Regions from separate parts of the Homo sapiens genome. Here regions 1 and 3 are each linked to region 2. The links come from fine-mapping of genetic effects on gene expression. A gene starts in region 2. Each other region holds a variant in brackets. All regions are shown on one strand. Distances are between the middles of the regions.

Evidence for each region. PIP is the estimated chance that this variant, and not a neighbour inherited with it, causes the effect. A credible set is the group of variants that fine-mapping cannot tell apart.
Region 1: its variant is the best candidate, but not a certain one, in a credible set for the expression of PSMF1 in blood mononuclear cells (TOPMed, PIP 0.60).
Region 3: its variant is the best candidate, but not a certain one, in a credible set for the expression of PSMF1 in skeletal muscle (GTEx, PIP 0.55).

What each region holds. Positions count from the first base shown.
Region 1 is chr20:1,064,290-1,068,534 of GRCh38, reverse strand. No RefSeq gene overlaps it. Among named protein-coding and RNA genes, the nearest start is that of PSMF1, 52 kb to the left of the region's middle. The variant T/C (reference allele first, on the strand shown) is at 2,213.
Region 2 is chr20:1,116,351-1,120,595 of GRCh38, reverse strand. PSMF1 (proteasome inhibitor subunit 1) reads right to left here and starts at 1,994. Exons shown (of 7, transcript NM_006814.5): 1 at 1,694-1,994. The coding sequence starts at 1,822. LOC105372493 (a long non-coding RNA gene) reads left to right here and starts at 2,148. Exons shown (of 2, transcript NR_136535.1): 1 at 2,148-2,212; 2 at 2,608-2,744. RefSeq lists enhancers at 1,722-1,851, 1,892-2,081, 2,092-2,141, 2,152-2,201, 1,601-2,243.
Region 3 is chr20:1,136,737-1,140,981 of GRCh38, reverse strand. All of the region lies in intron 4 of PSMF1 (proteasome inhibitor subunit 1), which reads right to left. Among named protein-coding and RNA genes, the nearest start is that of PSMF1, 20 kb to the right of the region's middle. The variant C/A (reference allele first, on the strand shown) is at 1,933.

The sequences.
Region 1 (4,245 bases), 52 kb after region 2:
AGTCATAAAATATAAATGATATTTAAAATCATGAGACTGAACAAAAGGGTTGCTATGGTCTGAATGTGTTCCCCAAAATGTGTGTGTTGGAAACTTAATTGCCAATGCAACAGTGTTGAAGTGGGGCCTTTTGAAAGGTGTTTAAGCCATGAGGGCAGAATGGATCAAGGTACTGATAAAAGAGCTTGATGGAGGGAGTTTGTTCCTTTTTCATAATTCCGTATCTTCCACTATGTGAATTTACAGATTTCCTCTCCTCTGGAGGACAACAGCATCAAGGCACCATCTAGGAAGCAGAGGGCAGCCCTCACCACACGTCTGAACATGCTGCTGCCTTGATCTTGGACTTTCCAGCTTCTAGAACTGTGAGAAATAAGTTTGTTTTCTTTGTAAATTACCCAGTAGAGGTATTAAATTATATACAAAGAGAATAAGGAAAGCACGTAAAAGGAATATATAGAAGGAAAAGAAAGAGTCCTAGGACTGATTTTGGGGGTCTCCAACACTCAGATGTCGAGAACATGAGGAAGAACCAGCAAAGAGAACAGTGTCAAATGCTTCTGAGCAATCAGGTAAGGCGAGGTCTGTGAACTGACCTCTGGATTTGGCAATGCAGAGGTATTTGGTGACCCTGATGAGAGTAGCTTTGAAGGAGGAAAACCTGTTTGGCATAGAAGGAAAGAAAATGAAGATAGTGAATATATACAATTTTTGAGGAGTTTTGCTTCAAATGGGAAGAAACAAAATGTGGGGGTAGCTGCACAGAGATATTGAGACAAGGGAGGGTATATACTTTTTAGAAGATGGGAGACTAATGGTATATTTGTCCACTTATGGGAATAATTTAGCAGAGAGAGGAAAATGATTCATGGAGGGATGATTATAGGAGCAAAGTCCTTGATTAGATGAGAATGATGGGATCCAGCAGACACATGGAGAGAGAGAAAGGGAGAGAGAGAAAGAGAGGGAGGGAGAAGTATTAGAGAGACGTGTTGATGGACTAGTGTAGAAGTTTTTATAAAAAGTTATTGTCATTCCACTTGCTTTCATTTGTAAGCCGTCAGTTAGAAGTGAGGAGAGAAAGAAGGTGTCAAAGATGTGAAGAAATAAGAGAAAGTGAAATGGTTGCCCAGGAAATGGAAGAGTAAATTGACTAGAGAAATATAGTAGCATTGTCAGATATCATAGGATTGGAAAAAAATATACTACTTGCTAAAATTCTGGAAAGGAATGAACAGCAGGGGAGTAAGCTGAATTATATAGCTTCTTTACCCCAGACCATTTTCCAATTCTAGGCAAAAGCAGAATGCTGAGAATCCAAGTTTTATGCAGCACTGGACTAGTGTGGAAGAAACCAGCAGAGCCTTTGGCAGACTTGAGGGCTCATTAATCCCTCAAGACACTTGCTGGATTCTGGGATACCTGGTGCAGGAGGCTATAAACCTTGGCATAAAGCCTCTGAGAAGAGGTGTTCAGTGTATGACTGACTGAAGCACAGGGAAACTGACCTTCCTGGGGTTACCTTACAGTCTTGACTCAGTACAATCCCTGACTGGTTTATGATGATAAGCCCCACTCTGTGCCTAGCAGAGGGTAAATCTTCTCTAGAAGAATATATCATCTGGAGTCTCTACATTATGTATAATAAGTGGCATTCTATTAACATTATTAGTTATGCCAAAGCTAGGACATATCTGAAAACAAACAGAATAAAATAGACAATAGAAACAGGTATATGATAATGACTTTGACATGCTAAGATTAATATGTTAAAAAACAGAAAAATATGCACAAAATATTTGAAAAGATGGAGAATTTCATCAGAAAATTAGCGTCTATAAAAAAGAAAAAATGATACCTCTAGAATGAGAAAATATAATATCTGAAATCAAAAATTCATCAGATGGGATTAACAGAGATTTGATACAGTGGAAGATAGGATTAGCACACTTAAAAAAATGAAAAGTGTCCAAACTAAAGTATACATAGAAAAATAATAGAAAATACACGAATGTGTCATAGATATGTGGGACCTAGTAAAAAAAATATACATTTATTTGGAGTCCTAGAAGGTGAGGATAAGAATACAAAATTAACAATATTTGCAGAAATAAGAGCTAAGAATTTTTTCAAAACTGATAAAAGATATCAACCCACAGACTCAAGAAGCTCTGACAATCCCAAGCAGGGTAAATACTAAGAAAATTATACA[T/C]AGGAACATCATAGTAAGACTGCTGAAAAACAAAAATAAAGAGAAAAATCTTAAAAGTAGTCAGAGGTAAATGACATTACCTACAGAAGAGCAACAATAAGACTGATGGTAGACTTTTCAACAGAAATGATGAAAGCCAGAAGACAATGAAATAACATTTATAAAGTGCTGAAAAAATATACATAATTGACAACTTAGAATTCTATATCTAGTAAAAATACTCTTCAAAAATAAAGGCAAAATCAAGATGGCTTTAGACCAAAAACAACAACAACAACAACCAAACCAGGGCTGAAATTTATCGCAAGATTACTGGTACTAAAATATTCAATAAAGTTATTTCTAAAAACCAAAATAAAATTATCCCAGAGTGGCCAGGCATGGTGGCTCACACCTGTAATCCCAGCACTCTGGGAGGCCAAGGTGGGCAGATCATGAGGTCAGGAGATCGAGACCATCCTGGCCAACATGGTGAAACCCTGTCTCTACTAAAAATACAAAAATTAGCTGGGTGTGGTGGCATGTGCCTATAATCCCAGCTACTTGGGAGGCTGAGGCATGAGAATCACTTGAACCCAGGAGGCAGAGGTTGCAGTGAGCCGAGATCGTGCCACTGTACTCCAGCCTGGTGACAGAGCAAGACTCTGTCTCCAAAAAAAAAAAAAAAAGAAAATTTTCCCAGAGTACAGAACTTCAGGGAGGAATAATTCAAGTTTACCAAGTGATAGGAAGGAAAATTCAAGTTTATCATACTCTTCAAATAATGGCCCACTATTGTCATCAGGATATATAAATATTCTCATTTGTTCTTTTATTGTTCCTCTCTTCTTTCTGAATCAGTCTTTCTATTCCCCTGCCTCACCACCCCCAACCCCAAGAAGACACCCTCCTTAGTGTGTATGCTGTATCTTCTTGATACATATGTATTGCAGAAAATTATAAAATTTTGTGTATTTATATATGTTTTACATTTATACAATATTAAAACATATTTTGGGCTATCAATCGCAAAACAAATATATAATATCAGATGATAATAAACACTAAGAAGAAAAATAAAGCAGGGTAGAGATTCATGTGATCAAAGCAGGTGTCTCAGAAGAGGTGATAATTGAGAGAGATCAAATAGAGTTAGGCAAGAAGAAGTACAGGGACTAGTAAGTGCAAAGGCCCTGTAGAAGGAGCATAGTTAGTGTGTTTTAAATAATCCTCATAAGTTTCTTGGAATCACCCATTAGTCTGCACTGGATACTGTATCTTGAGCCCCAGTGACTCATTTGGTTCTAATTTTGATGATTGGTAGCACCTGGTGCTGGGACAATGCTGCCTCTGGAGTTGTTAACGCCTTGTCAATCTGTCCCTTTTAAGTGGCGCCATGTGCACATGCTTTGGCACAACTATAATTGCAGTTTGGGTTTTAATTAGAGGAAGCCCCCTGGGACATTAGCTATGCACTAGCAAAGGCAGGCATCCTCCTGCAGAGTGCCCCTAACTAATGATATGCTCTGGGCAGACTGGTCCACTGGGGTCACCTGGAAGCTTAGGGCTGCAGATGTGGCAAGGGCAGCTGAGAGATGCCCTCCACCTGATGGTGCAGGTGGCCACCAATCTTTTCTTCCAGGATGGATTCCCTGTGTTGGCAGCAGCTCTCTGGAAGGGGAGATAAGAATTGCTTGCCCCATTTAATGGGGAAACCAAGGCAAGACTTTCTTAGATTTCCTTCAGGCAAATGCCATTCAAATCATTCATGAACCATTTACTGAACTTTCATTCAGGCCCAGGCTCTGTGCAAATGCCAGGTAGAAGAGTAAACAAGCCACAATTCCTGTCGTCAAGGAACTTAAAAGCATGTTCACATTTTGACTTTGCTACATGAATAGACCGTCTTGAGTAGAAGCAGTTATGAGCTAGCAAGCTGGAGCCTTGAAATCTAATCTCTAATCTGAACCACCTCTTGGGTAGAAGCAAGGGGTATCTGGTGTGTAATTCCTGGGCTCTGAGTATTACTAGACCTTCCTTTCTCCTCCCTCCTT
Region 2 (4,245 bases):
AAGAGCTGCTTAAGATTAAAAAGCTGGAGTAAGACAAGTGGGGAGACAAGATTTCTGTTAGGGGAACTATGCATTGAAAGAGGGGCCTGACGCTGAAATGGGGGTGCTGTCTCTACCTGGTCCCAAGGTCTGAAATGCTGGAAGACATTTGGAAGGTATGTGGAATGAAGAGCAGCACAAAGAGAAAGGTCAGGGACAGATGTGTTTGGGAAGGTGAAATGATTCCTGCTTCCAGGTATGTGTGTGTGAAAGGCTAGCTGTTCTTTTCCATCCTCATATCTAGTCTTAGAGCCCATTTGAGAGATGAAGTATGTGTGAGTTTGGAGGTGGGAATGGGGATCCTGAGTGTGTACCTGGGGTCCCAGTGAGATAATTGAGGTCTGGGGAAAAAAAGAGCCAGAAATCCCTGACGGTTCTTGTGTTCTGATTCCTGCTGGAGGGGGTAAAGTGTGAGAGGGGTATGGTGGTCTTGGTCTTTAGTTCTAAGAGACAGAGAGGAATAGGGACAGCAGTGAGGGGTGGGGGAAAGGGGATACTTGTCTAAGTGCTCAGAATGTACAAAGCAAGTTTGAAGAGAGGTCCCTAAAGCTATGTCAGGAGGGGAGAATTAAGACTCTATTTGAGAAGCTAAAAAAAATGATTAGAGGAGTTGAGAACTGAAGCAGTCAAAAAGGAGAGGAAGGGTGAAATCTCATGGCAAGATGCAATAGGTGGGGTGGTCTGTTTCCCATGGCTAGTCTTGGTTCTGAGAGTGAGAGAACAGTGACAGTGAGGGGCAGGCATGGAGGCAGGCCCACTTCTCCCAGGAAGCAGATGTCTAGGATGATGTGGATGTTGGGGATGAGGGTCACAGGGAAGAGACAGGAAAGAAAGAAGAATGCCAGAGCAAAGAATTAGTGAGGTGGGTTGGGTCCAGCAGTCCTAGAACTCTGTGGGGATGACAACGACGTCCCTAGCTGTAAGAGGTGGAGCCTGGGGATGGGAGAAGAGGGGCTGGCCCTATGGGGACAACTATGAGGAGAAAATCTTATATGACCCTCACACCCAGGGTGTATGTGTGTACGACTCTGGGGGTGATTGCTTCCTAGAGCTTGAGTTGGGGATGGCAGTAGCGAGTGGACTATGCTGGGCCCTTCAGTAAAGGGTGAAAGGCGTGTGAACTCTCTGGGCCCATGCTAACGGGTGAAAAAAGGGCCCTGGCCTGGGGCTGAGTAGGTCAAAGCTCACTCCTGTACCTGTGCTTGGATCCAGATGTTTGGTGGAGGCTCTACTGTGGTATGAGGGCGGAACTGAGTCAGTCCCCTCACCCCGAGGCTGGGTGGTAAGGAGTTCAGACGGGATCAGGTGGGTGAGAAGTGCTCTGGGGAGCTAAACTCCTGTCTAGATTCTTTGCCATTCTATGGAATGCTAGATCCACACAGTCCTGGCCTGAGAGGCTGCCAGGCTGTGTTGAAGCGAGTGTCCGCCCTTGAGTTTACAAATCATGTTGTGCCAGCTGTGCCGTGAGGGACTCTGGGCTGGGATGGGGCAGGTGAGCAACCTCCGACCCGCAGGTTTTACCAACGCTGCCATCTGCCCCAGACCCTGCACTGGGAGAAGCGGGGAAATCGGGCGCTCTGGACCAGGCCTCCGGTACTCTGAGTTTGGGCAGAAGACAGTTCCCTCCTCCACCCTGGCCGGCTCCGTGGCGTACCTGGTCACCGACACCCAAGCCGAAGTAACCGTGTGTCACCACTTCCCAATGCAAGAAGCAGACGAGCGCGTCCTGCCTGCAGGTGATGGCCGGCGCTGCCGATGCGAACAGTACCTCCAGGCCCGCCATGAGCGCCCGCGACTTCGGCGTCTGGAGGAAAGAAGGGGGCGGGGGTAGTGCAGTGAGCCGGCTCCGCGGCCGGGGTAGCTATAACTCTGCTTCCCTCTTGCGCTGGTTCTTGCCGAGTCCACACCTGAGACCAAAATGGAGACGCCCGGGGACGGGGCGGGGCGGGGAAGCCGGAAGTAGTCCCAACAGCGGGCGCAACTGCGTGAGGCGCGCCGGGTTGGCAACGCGAGCGCAGCACTGAAAGGTTCCGCCAGGGAGTGCGAGCGGGGCGTGGCCCCTCAAAGCCGGAAGCCGGGTCTTGGCGGCAGTCGACAGGATCGCCTGACGCGGGCACAGCGTCCTCCAAGAGGCCACCTTGCTGAGAGGCAGACTTCCCATCCACAAAATGGGGTATGCTAGGCCGGGGAAGGGGCTGGGAAATGTGGCTAAAATACATTCTTAATAATCGTTAACACGTTCGCCGTGCTTGCTACCGTCCACATTATTCTAAACGCTTTACTTGTATTCATTTATTTAATCTTCACAACCCAACTCTATGCAGTTGATATTAACGATTAATGTGCCTCATTGCACAGATGAGGAAACTGAGGCGCAGAGGGATAATTTGACCAAGATGACAACAGCCAGCCGGTGAACGGCTGAAATGGTTATGGGAACCTGGCAGTCTGGCTTCTAAGATAACATTTATTAAGTGTTTATTGTGTGCTACATCGTGCGCTAAAACCTTTACATCACCCTCTCAACAACTCTATGAAGTATGGACCGTTATTATCCCCATTTTGCAGATGACAAAACGGCTCAGAGTTGAAACCACTTCTCCAAGGAGACACAACTGCTGCCCGCAGAGCTGAAGCTCCTGACCCACTATCAAATTTCAATCATTTATTTGCCTACCCCCTTTATGATTTTTACCACCCGTTACTTCAACAAGTTTCATGAAATCCACTTATTGTTTTTACCCAAATAAATTTAGTTTCCCCATCCCAGTCACTAACCTGGTTCAAGCTCCTGTCATCTTTCACTTGGATGCCTGGCATCAGCCTCAGAACTGCCCCATTCCATTCCTGTCTCTCTCTAGTCTGTACTGCACTCCGCAACCAGAGAGATTCTGTTAGAAAACAAGTCAGATCGGCCAGGTGTGGCGGCTCATGCCTGTAATCCCAGCACTTTGTGAGGCCGAGGCAGGCGGATCACTTGAGGTCAGGAGTTTGAGACCAGCCTGGCCAACATGGTGAAACCCTGTCTCTACTAAAAATACAAAAATTAGCTGGGTGTGGTGGCGCACGCCTTTAGTCCCAGGTACTCGGGAGGCTGAGGCATGAGAATCAATCGAACCCGGGAGGTGGAGGTGGAGGTTGCAGTGAGCCAAGATCGCACCATTGCACTTCAGCCTGGGCAACAGAGCGATCTTCTGTCTCAAAAAAGAAAAAAAAAAAAAAAGAAAAGTCAGATCACATCCGTTGGCTCAAAATCGTCACACTCAATGGAAAAGTAAAGTCCTCCCCATGGTCTGCAGGAATCTGCATGTGGTCTGCCATCTCCTGCCCCAGCCCTGCCAGCCCTGTACCTCTCTGATTCAGTCTCCTTCAACTGTCCTCTCATCCCCTTTATACGTGCAATAACCTTGGCTCCCCCTCTTCTCTCACATCTACATCTGGTCCAACAGCAAAGCTAGTTGACTCCACTCTCAAAATATATTATGAATCTGACCACTTCCCATCACCTTCACTGCTTCCACTCTGGTCTGATCCTCCAGCATCTCACACTTAGACTATTGCAGTAGCTTCCCAGCCAGTTTCCCTGTTTCATGTGTTCTGTTTGGGCCTTTGCGTTCCTCTTCCTGGAATGCTCTTTTCCCAGATATCTGCATGTCTTGCTTCTTCATTTCAAGTGGCTTCATCCCTCACTCCTACCATCCTCAACAGAGGGCTTCCCAGACCATTCCATCCAAAATAACCTTCTCCCGTCTTTAATCCCTCTCTGGCTTTTTTTTTTTCCTGCAAAGCATTAATCATAACCTGAAACTATGTTAGGTGTTTATTTCTTTGCTTATTTAATGACTGTCTTTCCACTAGACTGTGACAAAGGAACAGGGAGCATGTCTACCTTGTGCACATATGTACCTGAGTGCCTTCTGGGATCAATCTATACTTATTGAAAGACAGAATGAATACTGAATGAAGGAATGAATTCTTGGCCTAGCCCCAACCCAGTCAGGGCACTCTTACCTCTTTATAGTCCATCACTCCCTTTGTCAGCTGGCCCTGTGCCTCTCCAAATTTTGTGTTCCTAAAGTTTCCTTGAGACAACCAGATTCTTGAACCCCTTCTGCAGAGATTCTGGATGAGAAGGTCTGAGGAAGAGTGCATGTATGTTGACTACATTCTGGATGACACTAAAGCTAGTGGCTGTGGAACTCCTCT
Region 3 (4,245 bases), 20 kb before region 2:
GTAAGCATATATCATATTTGCTATTCATCAAATGATAGACATTTAGGTTGTTCTTACTTTTTGGCTATTGCAAATAATACTATTTCTTGGTTTGGATTTCCATTTCCCTAATGACCAATGTTGTTGCACACCTTTTCTTGTGCTCATGGACTATCTGTACATCCTCCTTGGAGAAATATCTACTCAAATCCTTTGAACATTTTAAAATTGAGTTTTCTTTTGTATTGTTCAGTCGTAAGAGCTCTTTATATATTCTGGATACAAGCTTCTTGTCAGATATCTGATTTGCAAATATTCTCTCCCATTCTTTGGGTTATCTTTTCAGTTTCTTGATACTATCCTTTTATGCACAAAATATTTTAATTTTGACAAAGTTTGATTTGTCTATTTTTTCTCGCTGCTTGTGCTTTTAACCTCCCAGGTATTGTGTCTAAGAAACCACAGTCTAACTGAAGGTCAGGGAATAAGACTACCCAAGGTAGACTTATTTCTAGGTCTAGAAATTTTATAGTTCAAGCTCTTACACTCAGGTGTGTGATTCATTTAGAGGTAATCGAGGAAGGGACCCAACTTCATTCTTTTGCATGTAGATATCCAATTGTCCCAGCACCATTTGAAAAGACTATGGTTTCTCTACTAAATTGTCTTGGCAACCTTGCTGAAATCAATTCCCTATGAATGTATGGGTTAATTTCTAGACTCTCAATTCTATTTCCTTGCTCTATATGTTTATCCTAATGCCAGTGCCACACGGTCCTGATGATTGAAGCTTTGTAATAAGTTTTGAAATAGGGATCTGGAAGTCTTTCAACTTTGTTTTTCTTTGAGATTGTTTTAGCCATTCTGGTTCCCTTGCATTTCTACCTGAATTTTAGGATCAGCTTGCCAATTTCTGGGGGGGAAAAACCCAAAACCTGCTGGGATTTTCACTGGGATCGCACTGAATAGGTAGATCAAGTGGGGAGTATGGCTAATATTAATTCTTCCTAGCCGTGAGCACAGAATGTCTTTCCTTTACTTAAATCTTTAATTTCTTTCAACAATGTTTTACAGTTTTCACTGTACAAATCTTACACAATTCTTTCCCAAATCTTTCACAATTCTTCTTTTGTTAAATTTATTTTTACGTATTATATTCTTTTGGGGGTTGTTATAAATGGGATAATTTCATTAATTTTTAGATTGTTCATTGCTAATGTACAGAAATACAACTGATTTTTATCGTTTTTTTTTTTTTGAGATGGAGTCTCGCTCTGTTGCCCAGGCTGGAGTGCAGTGGTGCAATCTCAGCTCACTGCAAGCTCTGCCTCCCGGGTTCACGCCGTTCTCCTGCCTCAGCCTCCTGAGTAGCTGGGACTACAAGCACCTGCCACCACACCCAGCTAATTTTTTGTATTTTTAGTAGAGACGGGGTTTCACCGTGTTAGCCAGGATATCAATTTTATATCCTGCCACATTGCTGAACTTGCTTAGTTCTGTTTTTCGGAGGATTCCTTAGGATTTTCTGTATACAAGATATCACGTCATTGACAAATAGAGGTATTTTTACTTCCTACTTTCTAATCTGGATACCCCTTATTTTTCTTGAGTGATTGCCCTGGCTAGAATATCAAGTACAATGTTATATAAAAGTGGCAAAAACAAAAGCAAACATGCTTGCCTTGTTCCGGATCTTAAGAGGAAAACACTCCATCTTTCTCCATTAAGGAGAATGTCAGCTGTGAGCTTTTTGTAGATGCTCTTTATTGGCTTTAGAAAATTCCCTTCTATTGTTGTTTTTTGTTGTTGTTCTTTTCGTATGTGTGTTTTCTGACACAGTCTCGCTCTGTTGTCCAGGCTAGAGTGCAGTGGCGTGATCTCGGCTCACTGCAACCTCCACCTCCCAGGTTCAAGCGATTCTGCCTCAGCCTACCGAGTAGCTGGGATTACAGG[C/A]ATGCACAACCATGCCCAGATTATTTATATATTTTTAGTAGAGACAGGGTTTCACCATGTTGGCCAGGCTGATCTTGAACTCCCGACCTCAAATAATCCACCTGCCTTGGCCTCCCAAAGTGCTGGGATTACAGGGGTGAACCACCATGCCTGGCCCCTCCTATTGCTGAATTTGTTGTTTTTTTATTTGCTTTTGTTTGGTTTTGTTTTTTTTTGTTTGTTTTTGAGACAGGGTCTCACTTTGTTGCCCAGGCTGGAGTGCAGTGGTGTGATGACAGCTCACTGCAGCCTTGACCTCCCAGGTTGAAGTGACCCTTTCACCTCAGCACCCTAAGTAGCTGGGACTATAGGTATATGCCATCAAGCCTGGCTAATTTTTAATTTTTTTTGTAAAGACAGGGTCTCACTATATTTCCCAGGCTAACTGAATGCTCCTGTCATGAAAGGGTGTCAGACTTTGTCAAATGCTATTTTTCTATCGAGATGAACATGTAGTTTTTATCCTTTGTTGTATTTTTTTTTTTTTTTTTTGAGATGCAGTCTCTGTTGCCCAGGCTGGAGTGCAGTGGCGCCATCTCAGCTCCCTACAACCTCCACCTCCCGGGTTCAAGCGATTCCTGTGCCTCAGCCTCCCAAATGCAGGGATTACAGGCATGAGCCACCGGGCGCCTGGCCTCCTTTGTTCTATTGATATGGTATCTTAACACTGATTTATTTTCAGATGTTAAATCAATCATTCCTGGAATCAATTTCACTTGGTCATGTTATATAATCCTTTGTATATGTTGCTGGATTTGGTTTGTTAGTACTTTGTTAAGGGTTTTCATATCTGTATTCATAAAGGATACTGGCTTGTAGTTTTCTTGTCATGTCTTTGGTACTGGTTATCAGGATAATACTAGCTTCACAGAAGAAGCTGGGAAGTATTCCCTCCTCTTCTATTTTTTGGAGGACTATGTGAAGAACTGGTATTAATAAAAACTCCTTATTAAGGAAATTTTTTAACATACCAAAAAATAGTAAGAATAGTATCATGAGTTCCTGTGTGTATTCCCGCCTAACTTCAATAATTATCAATAGTCCACCATTCTTATTTTACTTATACTTCCCCTCCCCAACACCTTACTCTTTTGGCGGGGGCTGAAATTATTTTAAAGTAAATCCCAGACATATCATTCACCTTTAAATACTTCAATGTATATCTCTAACAGATAAAGACTTTTTTTAACATAAGCAGAATTATTTCACCTAACAAAACTGGCAGTAATTCATAATGCTATCTAATACCTGGTCAATGCTCAAATTTCCCCAAATGTTTGAAAAATAATTTTTTGAATTAGTTTGAATCAAGATCCAAACAAGGTCCAACACTGCATTTTAGTTGGTATGACTCTTTCCACAAGAGCCTCCTTTTCTCCCTTTTCTCCCCATGCGATTAATTTATTTGTTGAAAAAACAAGGTCAATTTATCCTATATAATTTTTCCATATTCCAATTTTGGATGTTGTATCCTCATGCACCTGTTTGACTCATTCTTCTGTCCTTCATATTTTTAAACTGGGAGTTAGATCTAGATTGAGGTTGCTGTGAACTTACTATTGCATAATATTAGAAAACAGTATCTGGCTATCCCACTTTTAGCGTTAAGATTAACCAATGGGTTCAGATGCTACTCGCCAGATCCACCTAATATAAAGTCCCCTATCGACCTTTACTTAATAGTTTTATCAACCATTGACAATTTGTGACTAGGTACATTATTTCAGCAGAAGTTGCAACATGGTGATTTTCTCATTCTCTCAGTTCTTCCAAGGCTAGGATTTTTACTTTCACAATTCTATACTCTACGTCTATGATTCCCAAATAGGGAAGCATAGCCTCCAGGTGCCATAGTGCAAGCCCTGGGGTCATTTTTGCTTGTCATAGTAGTTGGAGGGCGTTCTTGGCATTTACAGGCAGAGACCAGAGATGCTGGATGTTCTACAATTCATAGTAGAGTTTCACGAAATGAAGAATGACCTGCATCCCACACAATTTTCAAATGTCTTGTTAGATACTCATGGAGGTGTAAAGCCTAAATAAATTATCTGAATGTAAGGCCATTTTATATATGAACACTAAGTATTTTTTTCTACTACTTTAAAACAAGCACATTTTTCCAGGAATGTAACTATGGTATAACTGAAGAAACAATATTCAATCACTATTTTGTTTGCAATTCTCCTAACAGCTGTTTACCATTTCAAAAAAGTCATGTTAGTAACAGCAACAGAGTTTTGTGGTATTTGAGTTGTTGACATAATACATCTATAT